Homo sapiens: one gene and its partners. The protein of the gene in region 1 interacts with the protein of each later gene in a pairwise test. Each region holds a gene or a part of one and is shown on either strand. Other genes may lie near its edges. The genes, in order: CLIP3, FMR1 and KIF1B.

Region 1 (3,654 bases):
TGGCGCGATCTCAGCTCACTGCAAGCTCTGCCTCCTGGGTTCATGCCATTCTCCTGCCTCAGCCTCCCGAGTAGCTGGGACTACAGGTGCCCACCACCATGCCTGGCTAATTATTTGTATTTTTAGTAGAGAGAGGGTGTCACTGTGTTAGCCAGGATGGTCTTGATCTCCTGACCTCGTGATCCGCCCGCCTCAGCCTCCCAAAGTGCTGGGATTACAGGCGTGAGCCACCGCGCCTGGCCTTTTATTTTTATTTTTAGTAGCAACGGGTTTCACCATATTGGCCAGGCTGGTCTCAAACTCCTGCCCTCAAGCGATTCGCCCGCCTTGGCTCCCAAAGTGCTGGGATTACAGGCATAAGCCACTGCGCCCGGCCCCATCCAGAAAGCATTCTGCTGTGCACGATCTAATCATATCCATTGCACAATTCAGAAGGAAGGTTGGGTTGACTCTTCCCATTTTACAAGCCAGACTATAAGAGGCTCCAACAGGTGAAAACCTTTATCTGAAGACACGGAATACTAATCACTGCCCCTTAGAGAAGCAGCATAGCACAGCGTCATGAACTCAGGCTCAGGGACTTGCCCAGGTAAATCTCAGCTTTGCAACTTCCCACCTGTGGACCTGGAGCCAGTGATTCTGCCTCTTTGGGTGTCAATGTCTTCATCCGTAAATGGAGATAATAATAGTAACCACCTTAGGGGGCTGGTTGAGGTTTAAATTAATTAAAATGCGTAAGGCCATTAGAACAGAGTCCAGCGCATACTAAATGCTCTTTGTGTGTGCCAGGCACTGTTCTAGTCCCTCCACCAACACTCTTAAGATCAGCACTAATTGTCGGGGCGCGGTGCCTCACGCCTGTAATCCCAGCACTTTGGGAGGCAGAGGTGGGCGGATCACGAGGTCAGGAGATCGAGACCATCCTGGCTAACCCGGTGAAACCTCGTCTCTACAAAAAAAATACAAAAAATTAGCCAGGCATGGTGGCAGGTGCCTGTAGTCCCAGCTACTCAGGAGGCTGAGGCAGGAGAATGGCATGAACCCAGGAGGCGGAGCTTGCAGTGAGCCAAGATCATGCCACTGCACTCCAGCCTGGGCCAAAGTGTGAGACTCCGTCTCCAAAAAAAAATAAATAAATAAAAATAAAAAAAGATCAGCACTAATTAATTAGCCTATTATATGGACCAGGAACTGAGGCATGGAGAGGTGAATGAGCCTCCCATAATGATAATAACCACACTCACTAAAGTCTCACTGCAGCTAAGCAAGTTTACATGTGTTAAAAATGTTTCCGCCAAATGTGGTGGCTCATGCCTGTAATCCCAGCACTTTGGGAGGCTGAGGCAGAAGGATCGCTTGAGCCCAGGAATTCGAGACCAGCCTGGGCAACATAGTGAGACCTCATCTCTACTAAAAATGAAAAAATTAACCAGGCATGGTGGCACACACCTATAGTCCTAGCTACTTGGGAGGCTGAAGTGAGAGGATCGCTTGAGCCCAGGAGTTCAAGACCAGCCTGGGCAATCAACATGGTGAGACCTCATCTCTACTAATAATGAAAAAATTAATCAGGCATGGTGGCGCACACCTGTAGTCCTAGCTACTTGGGAGGCTGAAGTGAGAGGATCACTTGTGCCCAGGAGTTTGAGGCTGCACTGTGCCAGGGTCGTGCCACTGCACCCCTGGCATGGGCAACAAAGTGAGACCCTGTCTAAAAAAAAAAAAAGTTTCCGCCAGATGATCACTCCATGAGGTGGCTTACTATCTCTATTTTACAGATGAAACTGAGGCTCAATAAGTCCCCTGACCAAAGTTACAGCATGATAATAGCTAACAGGCTGAGCACAGTGGCTTCACACCTGTAATCCCAGCACTTTGGGAGGCCAAGATGGGGAGGATCGCTTGAGGCCAGGAGTTTGAAACTAACCTGGGCAACATAGGGATACTCCATTTCTATTTTTAACAAAAGTTTGTTGTTGTTGTTGTTGTTTTAATTAGCCAGGCTTTGGTGGCGTTCACCTGTAGTCCCAGCTACTCGGGAGACTGAGGAGGGAAGATTGCTTGAACCCAGGAGTTCAAGGTTACACTGAGCTATGATTGCACCACTGCACTCCAGCCTGGGCCACAGAGTGAGACCCTGTCTCTAAAATAGAAAAAAAATTTCAATAACGAATACTTGCTGATCCTTTACTTAATACCAAGCCCTGTTCTGAGGGCTTTAATTTCTCTATAACAGCCCTGTCCAACAGAGCTTTCTGTAATGGTGGAAATATTCTGTCTGTGCTGTCCAGTAAAGTAGCTACAAGCTACATGTGACAATTGAGCACTTGAAATATGGCTAGTGTGACTGGGGAAATGCATTTTTAATTTAGTTTAAATGTATTGATTTGTATTTTTATTTATTTATATTTTTTCTTGAGACAGAGTCTTGCTCTGTTGCTCAGGCTGGAGTGCAGTGGTGCTATCTGGGCTCACTGCAACCCTCCTGGGTTCAAGCAATTCTCCTGCCTCAGCCTCCCGAGTAGCTGGGATTACAGGCGTGCACCATCATGCCTGGTTAATTTTTGTATTTTTAGTAGAGATGGGGGTTTCACCATGTTGGCCAGGCTGGTCTTGAACTCCTGACCTCAGGTGATCCTCCCACCTCGGCCTCCCAGAGTGCTAGGATTATAGGTGTGAGCCACCGCGCCCGGACTAAATTTATTTATTTTTAAATTTAAAAATCATCTGAGTCTTCTTTCTAAGGTATGTATTTATTTATTTTTGAGACAGGGTCTTGCTTGTTGCCCAGGCTGGAGTGCAGTGGCACCATCATAGCTCACTGCACCCTTGAACTCCTGGGCTCAAGCGATCCTCCCACCTCAGCCTCCCAAGTAACTGGGACAACAGGCTTGAGCTACTGCACCTGGTTACCTTTTTTCTTTCTTTTATAGAGAATAGGGTCTTGCTGTCTTTGTTTTTTGGAACAGATTAAGATTAGAGGGTCTCGCCATTTTCACCCAGGCTGGTCTGAAACTCCTGGCCTCAAGTGATCCTCCAGCCTTGGCATCCCAAAGTGTTGGGATTATAGGCATGAGCCACCACACCCGGCCTTAGTTTAAATTTAAATTGTTGGCCAGGCATGGTGGCTCATGCCTGTGATCCCAGCACTTTGGGAGGCCGAGGCGGGTGGATCACCTGAGGTCAGGAATTCGAGACCAGCCTGGCCAACATGGCGAAGCCCCGTCTCTACTAAAAATACAAAAATTAGCCAGGCGTGGTGGCATGCACCTGTAGTCCCAGCTACTTGGGAGGCTGAGATGGGAGAATTGCTTGAACCCAGGAAGTGGAATTTGCAGTGAGCCGAGATCGTGCCACTGCACTCGAGCCTGGCAACAGAGTGAGACGCTGTCTCGAAAAAAAAAAAAATAAATAAAATAAATAAATAAATAAATTTACATTGTCCTATGTGGCTAGTCACTATTCACTATATGAGACAGGGCAACTCTTTAACAATCCTATAAGGTGAGTATAATTTCTGTTCCCATTTCACAGCAAAGGAAGTTGAGGCACACAGAGGTTAAGTCATGTAGCCAGCAAATGGTGATGTGTGACCTGGGGTTTGGGCCCAGGGCGGCCTCATGCAACCCACCTTGCTGCCCGTGTGTGGGCACT
Region 2 (3,654 bases), on another chromosome or scaffold:
TACAAAACATTTAACCTGCTTCCAATGTTTCTTAGACAAAGTACCTGTACTTTGCAGGATTATTATGCATACATGGAAATGACCTTCCTATCTCTCCAAAATAAGCTTGAAATTAAAATATGAAAAATTTCACAAAACTTGGGGCAGACAAAATTAAAAAAAAAAAGCTCTAAGTTAAAATTGGTCATCAGGCCAAAGAGCAGGCATATCCTACTAACTTTCGACCAGGAAGATTTGTTCCTAGCTGAAAACATTTTAGCCTCTCTCAGATGAAGATAGTTCTTTCTTCTCCTGTCTATACAGAAAAATTACACATCTCTCTCAATAACACTATTTATCAAACTTCAGTGCAACAAAACAAAAACAAAAACAAGTCCTATTCTTTATACTGCCTAACCTGATGTTTATGTAAGGAAAAAAATATGGAAAGCATGCATTCTTCTATAAAGTACTAATGTTTGACAGGGTTTGCTACATCTTTAACATTTAGTGTTTCCAACTTATCTTCCCTGAACTCTGCATCCAAATATAATATTCCTACCTGCCAAGATATAAAAAAGGCACAGATCATACAACTTTTTTTGCTAATGAAAATGACAAATGTCACATCACACACATTTCAGGGTCCACTAAAATACTGGAAAAGTGGACCAAAACATAAACTGACACAGGACATGAAATGACATAGCATTTCATGAAGACTTCTATACGAGATTGAAAACAGAAGTCTAATATGATTACCATAAATGCTATATATTAAGAAAAACTGAGAATGTACTGGTGAATGATCACCCAATGCAGGAAAATGGTCCAAATTAACAAAGAATATCACTGCTCAGTACTTTAGAAAATAAAACTAAAATCTGCCCTGAAGTGCTAAGTAGTTTTAAAAGCAATGTTTCAAATTTTAAGGTATCTTTTTGTGCAAATCTGAAAATTGTTGCTTATGGCCAATACCAAAAAATAAAAAATTCTTAGCATAATTTGTGTTCATTTCATGCCCTGTGCCATCTTGCCTACTATTTGTCTTTGGCCTAACAAAGTTTTCTAATATGGAATAAGAATTACGGAAATGGTATAGGAAATATAACTTCAGAATTATGCAGTTTAGGGTACTCCATTCACGAGTGGTTGCTGACCATCCACGCTGTCTGGCTTCTCTTTCTTCTGGTTACGATCTTTACCCGTGCGCAGCCGACTACCTTCACTGGAGGTATTCTGTAATGTTTTAGTGTGGACACTCCTTTCATTATTGCAGTCAACTCTGATCTAAAACAAGTTATAGTTGTTATATACACAGACCATATCCTACTGTAATCTGTAATTGGCCTGACAAGAAATTTAAACCTGAAGTGTAAATTCCACATGTTAAAAAGAGAAATGGAGATGAGAACAGAAGAAGTGCAAGAAATTAATGTAAGGTAGGATTCTTTATTTGGTTTATGATTTTAAAACACTCTTCTTCTTTAACTGGAACACACTGGTCATCTCACTGCATCCAAAGTTAGAGAAAAACTCACAATCCTATCATGTCTTCTTCTAAGTAGAATAAAACAGTGAGAAACAAACAGGTAAAATGAATTACTATTACTGATTACCAGAAGACATACATGCCTCTAACACTAGAGTTAAAATAAAATTAGTTATTCTCCAAAGATTGTGAAGCCCAGGAAAAGAGAAACAAAATGTTTTCCTATTCTGGCTTTACCCTCAAATAACTCACTAACTAGACTTTAATTTACATCTTTATATCTATCACAGGTATGATCAAGTTTCTCTATACTGAGAGCTCCCATAGTCATACAGTAGAAAAACACGAGCTTTGGTTTCTACTGGCTTGTATTTCACTAAGAAAATTCAGATGATCCTACAACCTGAACTCTGTCTGAAGAATGGAACAGTATAAAGAAAACTGCATATAATAATTTGTGGAAGGACTGGAATCCTAGGAGAGTATAAAGATCAATGTAATTTAAAAAATAGTGTTCTAAGAGCTATAAAATATTTTAAGTGCCAATGCTGAATACAGCACTGCTAATTCCAGAGGTACAAATGAAAGTTAACAGTGACAAATGGAACTAAAACAACTACAAATATTGATCTACTTCAAGCACAAATGCTAAAAACATCCCCAAATGGTTGTAATTTCAAAGTATGTTTAAGTAGTGGGTATGTGCATGTGTTTTAAATGTCTCGTTACCAAGGATTCAGTACTTTGATTTGTATCTTTTTTTTTTTTTTTCCCAGACAGTCTCGCTCTGTCGCCCAGGCTGGAGTGCAGTGGCGCGATCTTGGCTCACTGCAAGCTCCGCCTCCCAGGTTCACGCCATCCTCCTGCCTCAGCCTCCTGAGTAGCTGGGACTATAGGTGCCCGCCACCATGCCCGGCTAATTTTTTGTATTTTTAGTAGAGATGGGGTTTCACCATGTTAGCCAGGATGGTCTCGATCTCCTGACCTTGTGATCCACCCGCCTTGGCCTCCCAAAGTGCTGGGATTACAGGCGTGCGCCACCGTGCCTGGCCCTTTTTTTTTTTTTTTGAGATGGTGTTTTGCTCTTGTTGCTCAGGCTGGAGTGCAATGGCAAGATCTTGGCTCACTGCAACCTCTGCCACCTGGGTTCAAGCGATTCTCCTGCCTCAGCCTCCCGAGTAGCTGAGATTACAGGTGCCCGCCAACACGTCTGGCTAATTTTTTGTATTTTTAGTAGAAATGGGGTTTCACCATGTTAGCCAGGCTGGTCTCGAACTCCTGACCTCAGGTGATCTGACCACCTTGGCCTCCCAAAGCGCTGGGACTACAGGCGTGAGCACCGCGCCTGGCCAGATTTGTATCTATTTTCATACTTAATAGAGAAAACATCACCTTTTAAATTCAGTATTCCATTTCATTTAGAAATATAAATGTGCATCCTTTTAACCAATGCAGTTAGACTGCCAAGTTCATCAAACATATCAGTTTAAGTGGAAAATTACAAAACGGGTACTTAAATATCTTATAGCTTTGTAAAAGACAGGTACATACAGTAATTTACCAATCTATCTATCCCTTGGACATGCTGGTCCTTAAGAACCCACCAATAGTTAACACTTACTTTGAGCTGCTATGAATTCCAAGAAATATTCCATCATAAACTTTGTCTTAAAAAGTATCTCTCACTAATCTTGGGTGATGGTCCCAAATGAATCCATAGTCAGGAAGGAACCCTAACTACTTAATAATTAAAAGTTACAGAAAAAGTAGACGACAACATAGATTCAGAGAATCAGACACTAAGGTTTGACTATCATTTGGACATATGCTAGCTATGTGACTGTGGGCAAAGGACTGAAGCTACAGTGCACTCACCTATAAAGTGGAATAATAAAACTACCTCAGTGGGTTGCTGTAAGATTAAATGAGATAAAACATACACAAAGCACTTAGCAAAGGTGCCTGGATGTGCTCAGGAGATAATTTTAAAATTATTTAACAATTGGTTTAGCACTGGTGACAGCCAATTGAGAAGAGATCCTCGGACTAGGTCCTGGCTGTAAATAAGCAGATGACTGACCAAGCATGGAGACTAGCTGAATATCATCAGCTCTGTCTATCATGATTATTAGTTGTAAGACAGACACCTTCTTTTCCTTATTTTCTATTCAAAGAGAATACCC
Region 3 (3,654 bases), on another chromosome or scaffold:
TGAGCAAAACTCTGTCTCAAAAAAGAAAAGAAACAAAGAAAAGGGGTCTCACTTTTTCACCGCCCAGGTTGGAGTGAGTGGTGTGATTGAAGCTCATGGCAGCCTCAAAACTCCTTGGCTGTACCTCAGCCTCAGGAGTAGCTGGGTACTATAGGCATGCATCACTGCCCTGTTTATTTTTTATTTTATTTTGTAAAGGTATTTGAAGAACATTTCTTCCTTTTACTTAAAGAAGCTGTTGAAAACATTTAGTACATATCTATCTATCTATCTATCTATCTATCTATCTATCTATCTATCATCTATCTATCTATCTATCTATCTATTGAAACAGGGTCTCACTCTGTTGCCCAGGCTGGAGTACAGTGGAACAATCACAGTTCACTGCAGCCTCAATCTCCCAGGCTCAAGCAATCCTCCTCCCTCAGCCTCTGGAGTTATTGGGACTACAGGCACATGCCACCACACCTACCTAATTTTTTTTTTTTTTTTTGAGACGGAGTTTCGCTTTTGTTGCCCAGGCTGGAGTGCAATGGCTCGCGATCTCGGCTCACCGTAACCTCCACCTCCCGGGTTCAAGTGATTCTCCTACTTCAGCCTCCCGAGTAGCTGGGATTACAGGCATGTGCCACCACACCCAACTAATTTTGTATTTTTAGTAGAGACGGAGTTTCTCCATGTTGGTCAGGCTGGTCTCGAACTCTTGACCTCAGGTGATCCGCCTGCCTCAGCCTCCCAAAGTGCTGGGATTACAAGCATGAACCACCGCGCCCATCCACTAAATTTATCTTTAATAGAGATGAGATCCTGCTTCACTGCCCAGGCTGATACCGAACTATTGGGCGCAAGCAATCCTCTCACCTAGGCCTCCCAAAGTGCTGGGATTACAGGTGTGAGCCACTGTCCCCAGCCCTAGTAAGTCTTTATTTTTTATTTTTTTGAGGTGAGTTTCACTCTTGTTGCCCAGGCTGGAGTGCAATGGCACGATCTCAGCTTACAACAACCTCTGCCTCCTGAGTTCAAGTGATTCTCCTGCCTCAGCCTCCCGAGTAGCTGGGATTACAGGCATGCACCACCACACTCAGCTGATTTTTTTGTATTTTTAGTAGAGATGGGGTTCTCCATGTTGGTCAGGCTAGTCTCAAACTCCCGACCTCAGGTGATCCGCCTGCCTCGGCCTCCCGAAGTGCTGGGATTACAGGCGTGAGCCATAAGGCCTGGCCTATTTTTTACTTTTAAGATGGAGTTTTGCTCTTGTTGCCCAAGCTGGAGTGCAATGGCATGATCTCGGCTCACTGCAACCTCCGCCTCCCAGGTTCAAGTGATTCTCTTGCCTCAGTCTCCCAAGTAGCTGGGATTACAGGCATGCACCACCATGCCCGGCTAAATTTGTATTTTTAGTAGAGATGGGGTTTCTCCATGTTGGTTAGGCTGGTCTCAAACTCCCAACCTCAGTGATGCACCAGCCTCGGCCTCCCAAAGTGCTGGGATTACAGGCATGAGCCACCGCGCCCGGCCGTACGTATCTTTATATCAGGATGTTTATAACAATTTTCTCTTAGAACATCTTTAGAATTTAATACTAGGAAAAAAGGTTTCTCTCGACAAACTATTAGGCTTTCTTTTACCAGAGTGAAAATTGTACAATTTATCTTTCCCTTTTTGCATTAAATTCCATGTTTCCAAATTAAATTACAATAACCACATTAGCCGAGGCAACCTATACATTTAGTTTTTCTTGTTACATAAATTTTTACTTATTTATATTTTAATAGCTTCACTGTATATATTTGTGGTAAGCTGCTCAAATCCTTTCTAGAAGTAGTAACTGGTATAAATTATAAATAAATAAAAACTTCCTGTAATAGCCTATTCTGCTATTTAACACTGTAAATATGTTGTGTAGTCAAAGTTCTAGTTCCTAAAAACAAATAAAACCAAACGACACAGCAAGCTTTTAAAAGTTACATAAAGATCGGCTGGGCATCGTGGCTCACGCGTATAATCCCAACACTTTGGGAGGCCAAGGCGGGTGGATCACTTGAGGTCAGGAGTTCAAGACCAGCCTGGCCAACATGATGAAACGCTGTCTCTACTAAAAATACAAAAATTAGCTGGGTGTGATGGCACATGACTGTAATCCCAGCTACTCGGGAGGCTGAGGCAGGAGAATCACTTGAACCCGGGAGATGAAGGTTGCAGTGAGCCAAGGTCACACCACTGCACTCTAGCCTGGATGACAGAGCGAGACTCTGTCTCAAAAAAAAAAAAAGTTGCACAAAGATTTATGTTGAATGAATTTAATAGCCATGTGAGTAGCCAGAAAAACAGCAGTTTCAGAAGACTGAAACCAGCCCACAAACAGAAGTAGCCAAAAGTTCAAGGAAGAAAAAAACAAAATGAGTAACATACTTAGTACTGCAAAAGTGTGAAGTGTGCCTCCTGGTTTCAGCAATAAAGGCTGGAAACCACAGCAAGGGCAGTATCCATGAAGTGGGGGGCAGGAGGGGACACTGAAGCCAGCCTGTAGTGGGTTGGCACGGAAGTGGGAAATGCCAGTATCCATGACACTGTCAGAGCCTGGCTATGATGAGCAGGAGAGAGCAAATAGGAATGAAGGATTTTATTGGAAGGAACAGAAACGAAGGAGGGATTTTCCTCCCCCCAGCCCTTTATTTGTAATAGGAAAGACTTGCACATTTCTATACTTTATTCAATAGCTATTTACTGGGTGCCTACAATGCAACAGGCAGTTCCTGGGAAAAATAATCCGTGAACAAAAAAGATAAACAAACCTCCTTGTCATGGAGGAATTTACATTCTAGTAGGGAGAGGGAGGACATTAAAATTAATAAATCAGGTATAGAGAATCGAGAATGTAATCAGCATCACGGGGGAGTACAGCAAAGTCAGGGGGTTCAAGATTGTGGTGGTGGGAAGGATTGCTGTGCAGGTGCATAAATGAGGTCAGGGTGGGCCTGCTGATGTGCTGAGATTTAAGCAAAGACTTGAAAGAGGTAAAGGAGTTAGCCAAGCAGATTTCAGGGGAAAAGTATTCCAGGCAGAAGAAAGAGTAAGAGCAGCTGGGTGCGGTGGCTCACGCCTGTAACCTCAGCACTCTGGGAGGCTGAGGCAGGTGGATCACCTGAGGCCAGAAGTTCAAGACCAGCCTGGCCAACATGGTGAAACACCGTCTCTACTAAAAATACAAAATTAGCTGGGCTTGGTGGTGGGTGCCTATAATCCCAGCTGCTCAGGTGGCCGAGGCAGGAGAATTGCTTGAACCCAGGAGATTGTGCCTCTGCACCCCAGCCTGGGAGACACAGCAAGGCTGTCTCAAAAAAAAAAAAAAAAGAAAAAGAAAGAGTAAGAGCAAGTGCCCTATGGTAGGACTATGCCTGGTGTGTTCAAGAACAGTAGAAAAGGCTGGGCACAATGGGTCACGCCCGTAATCCCAACATTTTGGAAGGCAGAGGCGGGCGGATCACCTGAGGTCAGGAGTTTGAGACCAGCCTGGCCAACACGGTGAAACCCCATCTCTACTAAAAATACAAAAATTAGCTGGGCGTGGTGGCACACGTTTGTAATCCCAGCTACTTGGGAGGCTGAGGCAGGAGAATCACTTGAATCCGGGAGGCAGAGGTTGTAGTGAGC

The links.
Region 2: the proteins of CLIP3 (region 1) and FMR1 interact in a two-hybrid assay, tested with the Homo sapiens proteins (one large-scale study listed by IntAct).
Region 3: the proteins of CLIP3 (region 1) and KIF1B interact in binary tests that used the Homo sapiens proteins (3 or more experiments, as listed by UniProt).

What each region holds. Positions count from the first base shown.
Region 1 is NC_000019.10:36,019,362-36,023,015, reverse strand, and holds part of CLIP3 (CAP-Gly domain-containing linker protein 3), read left to right. Parts: intron 1-3,631; exon of another isoform or gene 3,632-3,654. UniProt on the Homo sapiens protein: Functions as a cytoplasmic linker protein. Involved in TGN-endosome dynamics. May modulate the cellular compartmentalization of AKT kinase family and promote its cell membrane localization, thereby playing a role in glucose transport in adipocytes.
Region 2 is NC_000023.11:147,946,298-147,949,951, reverse strand, and holds part of FMR1 (fragile X messenger ribonucleoprotein 1), read right to left. Parts: intron 1,270-3,654; coding exon 1,108-1,269; 3' UTR 1-1,107.
Region 3 is NC_000001.11:10,217,044-10,220,697, reverse strand, and holds part of KIF1B (kinesin-like protein KIF1B), read right to left. Parts: intron 1-3,654. UniProt on the Homo sapiens protein: Has a plus-end-directed microtubule motor activity and functions as a motor for transport of vesicles and organelles along microtubules.